Homo sapiens: one gene and its partner. The main gene of each other region encodes a partner of the protein of the gene in region 2 in a complex. Each region holds a gene or a part of one and is shown on either strand. Other genes may lie near its edges.

Evidence for each region.
Region 1: STRIP2 (region 2) and STK24 share a complex: the UniProt entries of both Homo sapiens proteins name them as parts of the core of STRIPAK complex.

Annotation. Positions count from the first base shown.
Region 1 is NC_000013.11:98,465,381-98,469,130, forward strand, and holds part of STK24 (serine/threonine-protein kinase 24 isoform b precursor), read right to left. Parts: intron 1,182-3,750; coding exon 996-1,181; intron 1-995. UniProt on the Homo sapiens protein: Serine/threonine-protein kinase that acts on both serine and threonine residues and promotes apoptosis in response to stress stimuli and caspase activation.
Region 2 is NC_000007.14:129,432,587-129,436,336, reverse strand, and holds the start of STRIP2 (striatin-interacting protein 2), read right to left. Parts: upstream 1,906-3,750; 5' UTR 1,865-1,905; coding exon 1,736-1,864; intron 1-1,735. UniProt on the Homo sapiens protein: Plays a role in the regulation of cell morphology and cytoskeletal organization. Required in the control of cell shape. Calmodulin-binding scaffolding protein which is the center of the striatin-interacting phosphatase and kinase (STRIPAK) complexes.

The sequences.
Region 1 (3,750 bases), on a different chromosome or scaffold from region 2:
GCATAAGCCCATACAGGACACATGCTTTGTATGGGAAGACATGCCTGCACACATCTCCACTGGTGCTGGTGCATGATGGCTGCAAGAAACATCATCGTGTAATAAAATGCAGAGCATCGTGGCATGCAGGACAAGCCCCACCACCACCCGATGCTGATGTAGTCATCAAACACTGGTGTGGTGGTCTCAGCCTGCATCTCCTTAGACGTACTTAGAAAATGTTGCATTACCCATTTAATTCCTTTACCAGAACTGGCATATTAGGAAACCATGGTGCTCTTGTAAAAGTAACCACCCATTTTTACATAAGAGTTAAGAAAAGGGGGGCTCAGCTTAGCCTTCAGCTAACTCTGCTGGAAAACTCAGAAACAAAACAAGGACATATGGTGCTACCTCCAACACCAACACACACACACTACTTTCAAAGAAATGTCCTAATTCAGACAGAAAATGAGGCAAAGCCACACAGTCGTTACTGCTGTATGGCTCTGCCAGAGTCTATTAAACCTAAAAAGAGAAAGTAGGCAGGAAGGGGAGGGGAAGAAGCACAGAGGGTGGCTTGGTTATATTTTCTAATCTTTTGTTTCCTAACACATGCCACCTGGAAAGTGAAAACATTTACTTTAAAGACATATTTAGCCATTTGTTTCCAGCTAACCTTTGCCATTATTAAAAACAGTGTAACAGTTTATGGCCTGATCTTCTATAAATATTAAACATTTATGATTCCACATTTAATATTAAGGAGAATATTCTTCAGATTCAATGAAGTATGAGATGGCAGAAATCTAAAAGAAAATAAGGAGATTTTTAATACTTAAAAATTAAAATGTATTTGCAAACCAAAGAAGTCAATCATACTTACTTAGAAAAAGAAAAATGAATAATACCAGGAAGACAGCTGAAAAGAGTGATTAAAGCAATCCCAACAGGATGTATCTCAACCAAGTCAAGCCGCACATGAAGAGGTACGCTGTGATCCCTGGGAAACTTACAAAGCTCGGCTCCTTATTCAAACAGGCCTCCACAAACTCCTTGAGGGGTTTACTGTAGTTTCCTTCCAACGTCGGTGGGTTGTTCTTTGGAATGAGGAATAAAACTTTCATGGGGTGCAGCTCGGAATGAGGTGGTTCCCCTCTTGCAAGTTCAATAGCTGTTATGCCCAGGGACCAGATGTCTGCCTGCAACAAGAAAAGCATCTTTACAAACACCAAGCAGGAATCTATTCCAATACACAGTATTTAGGGGGAAAATGGTAACATGTCTCAATACTTCTGAGGTTTTGAAAAAGGTATTTTTAACTGATATTTAAAAACATAAGCCCTCGCTGTAATTTCAAAAGAGACAACAGGAGAAACTGTAATATGCCAAATGTTTTCTGCCTCTACATGGAGATGGCTTATCAATTCACTCCTACTACGCCTCCTGCTGGATGCATTCGGCATTCCCCGTGGAGTCCCGGGGGCCAGCAGGACCAGTAAGAGAGGTGAGCAGAGAGGAGGAGTCCGGAGTGGGTGTACGCTCGCGAGTCACCCCCTCCAGCAGTGCTTAGAACTTAGGGCACAGCTCTGAGGTCGAGAGTGGGCACCTTGGTCTCAAGATACCTGGGTTGAAATGCCAGTTCTACAGTCAAAGTCCTGTGACGTTAGATGAAAGAGCTAACCTCTGAGCCCTGTTTCTCTCATCTGTAGAATGGAGGTGGAAGAGGAGGAGGTGGCCATGTAAGGTGCCTTACCAGGGGCCCAGAACTTAAAAAAGTTTATTATGAAAATGTTCAAACATACAAAGAACTGAGAAATATTAATATAATGCATCCTCATCTACCTATTGCATGAATTTACTAATTAACATTTTGCCATACGAGCTTTGTCCATGTGTTCCCCGAGTATATTTTAAAATCAATCAGTCATCATGACATTTTCCCCCGAGTATTTCCGTGTGCCAATATACAGACTTTTTACTACCTATCAGTGCCTGAAATTAACACGAATTCCTTAATGTCATGTATAATTAAATGTTCTCAGCTGTTCAAAAACTGTCATTCCATGGTTGGTTTATCTGAATCAGGATCCAAAGTCCACGGGGTACAACTGACTGCCAGGTCGCTAAGGCTCTTTCAACCTACAACAGTCCTGTCCCCAGTCTCCCCAGGGACATCAACTTAAAGAAACAGGTCCCAAATTCGGGATTTGTCTGGTGGTTTCTTGCTGATGTCATTTACTGTGTCTCTCTAGTGTCTGCATTTTCTGCCGAATGTCCCAGAGGAGACATCTGCAGAAGCCGTGTGGCCCCACTAGGACATCTCAGGTCCAGCTGCCCCACCTCCTTCTGCCCAGCACAGGCCTGTGGCACAACCAAGCAGTTAGGCAAAGGAATGAATTCCTTGAATGTGTCATGTCAATGAGAAGAGCCAGGCCATCCTAAGAGGAACTTGACAGCTGATGAGACATTGACAGCATGTGACACCAATCCCCAAACAGGACAGAGGCCGACAATGAGGCAGGACATAGTCCTATATGGGCTGGCGAAAGACGAATGGGGACTGGGGTAGAGAACACGCCTGAGTCTGGTACAGCTTTCCTGCTGTTCTCACTGTGCACTGGAATCCATCATTATTCCAAGAACTTCAGTGAGAATCGAATACATCTCTCACACTCACTCTACAGCAAGGAAATGCATAGGCGGAAGCATCGTTGTGGCTGCAGGGTGCTTTAACTATCCAGAGGATACACTTACCATGTTCCTGCAGCCTTAGTGAGTACCAGAAATCCCTACTGGAAGCCCCCAAGCCCAGCAGTCCATGGGAATGATGCCTACGGCATATTCTATTTCCTTATTCTCAGTGAAGATGAAAAGCTGCCAGCAAGTCTTGTTCTAAATTCTTTCTACTAAATCTTGTACTGAAGGGGTCAGTCTAGAAGAGCTGACGTTGGAAGTAATACTATTTTCCTTCCCTCTACAACTTGGACTCTGCTTTATCTTGCATTGCATTATCTTAAAAATCAGCAGAAATGCAACTGATCCCAGTCTCTTGCCCCTAGGAGCAGGGAAGCAGGTGCATGGGAGCACAGGGTGGGCAAGCACCCAGAACTGTGGCAGCGACAGGAGGACAGGAGTGAGCAGGCACAAGGAGGGAGGACCGAGGAGGGGAGAGGCAAGAACAGAGGTGGCAATTGTGACTCTTGTGTGGCAGCGGTTCTCCACACCAACAGGTGGCTCTCAAGTTTGTGTGATTCCACATCTGTCTGCTTCCCCCAGGCCTCTCAGATTTCATTACAGCTACTGCTGTTTTCAAAGCATGCTGTCTCCTGGCCACACAGACCCAGAGCCTTCTCATTTGTAAGGGTACATAATAGTTATATGAATTTTTTCTGGTACAAGTATACAGTGTGTAACAATCAAATCCGGGTAGCTGGGATCCCCCTCACCTCAAACACGGCTCATTCCTTTGTGCTGGGATATTCCAAATCTTCTCTTCTGGCTATTTGAAACACAACAAATTATTAACTACGGTCACCCTATTGTGCTACTGAACATGATCTCTGACGGATGCACCTCCAGACCTCCAAGCACCTCTCAACCAGCTAAACACACTCGGTGACTGGCAGGCAGGCCCTGGCAGAAGCCGATCTCTGCTGAGAGTACGTCGGTGATGCGCTTGCCTTGATTTTACTCAGAGGCCCGAGGACTTGCTTTCAGGTTCAGGGACAGATAATAAGCAGGCGGCCGAACGCCTGCTTGCGAACGCCT
Region 2 (3,750 bases):
GAAGGGAGACCCAGGCAGAGACTTTTATTCCCCCCATAGAACATATCATTCTGAAATTATTTTATTTATTTACTCACAATTTGTCTCCCCATGGGCGAAGACCCTATCTTGTTCACTGATATATCCCTGGCACCTAAAACAGTGGCTGGCAGAAAGTCCTCGATAAATAATTGTTGAATTAATGAATGGCTCATCTCCCCAAAAAAACATTTGAACGAGAACAATGTCTCTGTGGGGGAAGGAGGTACAGGGTGCCCTAAAAGACCAGACTCATCTTGAAGTAGGGAGGGAGATGATGTGGCGGGTATCATCTAGCAAGACAGGAGGGCTGAGCTCTCTGCCTCTGCAAGGTGGTGACTTTGGGCCAGTCTTTTCATCTCCATTTCTACCTTGAAAAAAAATGAATGGATTCCTCCTACTCTACCTACATCAAAATGTAAAGCATACATGAAATCACTTTGGAAACTGAAATGCTATTCAAATGGTAAGGCAAGGTCTGGGATGCCAAAAACCTGGTTTCTAGTACCAGCTCTGCCACTTGATGATGATGATGATGATGATGATAGCAATATACTAAGAGTTACTATGTACTGACTAATTACATGCATTGTGCCTGCACTGTGCCAAACATTTTATAGTCAATTATCTCATTTTGACTTTATCACAACCTTCTGAGGTAGGCAGTGTTAATCTCATCTTACAGATGAAGAAACTGGAGCTCAGAGAGGTTCCGTAATGTGCCGAAAATCACACAGGTAGTAAATGATAGGGCTAGGAGTCAAAACCTGGTCTGACTACTCCAAAGTCTGGTGTTCTTGACCACCAACTATGCCAGATGTCTGATCTTGGGCAAGTCACTCCTCTTTTTTTTAGGTCTGTAAAATGAAAGGGTTATACCAGATGATATCTGCAGACCCTGCCACATCTGATATTTTGTCGTCTATTCTGATCCCCGCTCAGATCCAACTGATGGGAACTGCCTCAATGAGGGGATAGGGAAGTGATAATAATTCAACGCTTTCATCTTCATAGATAGGGTTTCTTTTTTCAGGAGAGGAGGAAGAGATCGAAATATTCACACTCCTATCTGTATCCTGCGACTGCTCCCTCCAGATAGCCACTCCAGGACTGCCCCTGCCTGAATCCCGTCTCGCTCAGCCCTCACAGGCAGGGGCCTGATGTCCGCGGAAGGCGCTCCCGAAACGGCCTAAGACTTACGGGGGGAAGGGGACGGGCAGGGAACGGGCAGAAGTCCCTCGGCTGGCCCAGGGGCCCGCCGCAGGCAGCCTGGGAGGGGGACTGCGGTTGCCCCACTCGCCAATCCTGCTTTCCTGCGGCTGAGCTCCAGCCTCCCACCCCTCAAGCCAGTCACTTAACCTCTCCGCTCCTGTTCCCCCGTCTATAAACTGGGATCGGAATTTCTGCTTCAGGGGGCTGCAGCGATTAAGTGAGATAAATATTTGGAAAGTATCTGGTCCGCTCAATACCGCGCTCATCTTCGCGCAGCGGGGGAAAGCCAGAGGGCTAGAAAGCCCCCAACCCGCGGCAGGAGACGGGCGGACACTGGTCCGGGCCAAAGAGCCCAGAGTTCAGCCGCTAGGACCCCGCAGGCGCCCACTGCGCGGGGCTGATCGAGCGCGCCGAGGGCTCCGGGGCCGAGGCCGAATCACCTCAGCCGCCGCTTCCCGCCGGCGGGCGTCTCCGGGCCCCAGCCGAAGCTTTCCGGGCTCCTCACCTCTGACTCCCGCCGCTGGCTTCGGAACGCTTCGCGGCCCTTGGGCGCCGCCTGCTTCCCTTTGCCGCCGCCGTTGCCATTGCCATTTGCGGGCGGGCCCCCGGTCCCAGGCGCGGCGGGGTCCTCCATGCTGCTGGTCAGCGGCTCCCCTCAGGGTTCAGCTCGCTTTGCCGGAGGCGACCCTACCGCCGCGCGCCGGGAGCCAGGCCCCGCCCCCTCCACCTCTATTGGTTACGGCAGCTCGCCGCAACCCCGCCCCGCGAGGCGATTGGCTGCTCGACCGGCCGGAGCGGGACTCGAGGAGGTGGGGGCTCAATGAAGAGATTTTTGAGGGGATCTTTTTAGTCCTGCGGCATTGCTGGCGGACGGAGACTCCTAGGTTAGCTACAGGCTCCACACCTCGCGAAAGCTGGGCCTTGAGATCAGGCGGGTTATCTCTGTGCTCCTCACTCGGTGTCTCTCAGCTCTCACCCCCGTCCCTGTAGCGACCTTTTCCGGAGCTCTAGTCTCCGCCTACTGCTCCACAGCAGTCTCCGTTTCCCTGTTACCACCGACCCGGCCCCCCATATCCCGGCTCCTGCACACGTCCCATATCCCGCTTAGTCTCAGGGGAGGGATGGCACCGCCAGGTGGCCAGGGACATCGCCCGAAACGAGGGACTCGCTGTCTCTGGAAGCTGAGAATTCTCAGCGTTTTTCTGAAGAGAACGCATCTCGCCCGGAGCTAGGGCTTGGCTGGGAGACTGGAGGTCTAAGGGTGGGATGGGGGAGTTTTTCCATCACTGAAATTGGTGGTGCCCTCGAGGGCTGCTCCTGTCATCTGCCCTTCTCTGCTGTAGGGGGCCTCTTCCTCATGGTGTGTAAATGTTGAGGGTAGAGCAAGCCCCCACCCTCACCTGCTCGCCAGTCCTTTCTTTCCTTCCTCTCTCTTAGATGCTTCCTAAGGGCTCATTGTTACTGGGGGCAAAAGAGGCTGTTTGATCTGCCCTCTCCTGAATTTAAAAAGTAGCTTGTAGTAAATATTTAGACAGTCTGGCTTGGTAATAGAAGCCCCAAAGACGTAGGCTCAGGGGAACAGGTGGGACCAAATCGCTGTCCCCAGCCTGGTTGCTTTAGGAAGGGTCTGGGGGATTGTTGAACTGAGCTTGGTGCCAGGCACTGCAGTAAGCGCTTTCCAAATATCACATCATACCTCTCCCCGACAGGGTGTTTTTACGAATCCAATGTTACTGATGAAGAAACCGGCACTTGCAGATTCCTCCCTGCGGTTTCCAAGGTATCATATTCTATCTTGTCTCAGGGTCTTGCCTATGCTGTTCTCTGGAGGAGACTGTCTTCTGTTCTCCTGGTTGATTCCTTTTCTCTCATAAAGATTCTAGTTAGTTGTCACCTCCTCCTCCTCCACAAAGCTTTCCTTTTAGCCCTCAACTCATTCAGGTTGTGTTGGTGTCAAACCAGTTCTGCCTAGATCCAAAATCCTAACATTTTCCACGATATACCCAAAGCAAAGGGCCTAGAGGAATTACTCCACCTTCCCATACCTTAGGGACAACCCTGTCCCTTTCTTAACATCTCTCTCTCTCTCTCACTTTTCCCTTTGCCAGTTCATAGGCGACAGAACAAGGCAAGTTTGAGAGCACTCTTTGGAGCTTTTTGGGTTTTCTCACCCTGGTCCAATATCTCCTTACTGTACCTTCACATCTTCCTTTTCCTCTTCCAGTCCCACTCCTCTCCCCACCCACATATAGGCTCCTAGCGAGTAAGACCAAATTTAGCTCATTTTTGTATGCCCCTAATTTATGTACGTTTAACGCAGCGTTTCACAGTCTCTGTACTATTGACAATTGGGGCTGAATATTTATTGTAGGGGGCTGTCCTGTGCATCGTAGGATGCTTAGCAGAATACCTGGCCTCTCTTCACTAGATGCCAGTAGTATCCTCCCGCTAGTGCGACAACCAAAAATGTCTCGGGGCGGGGGGCTGGGTGTGGGGGGTGGGGAGTGTGGCGTTTACAGA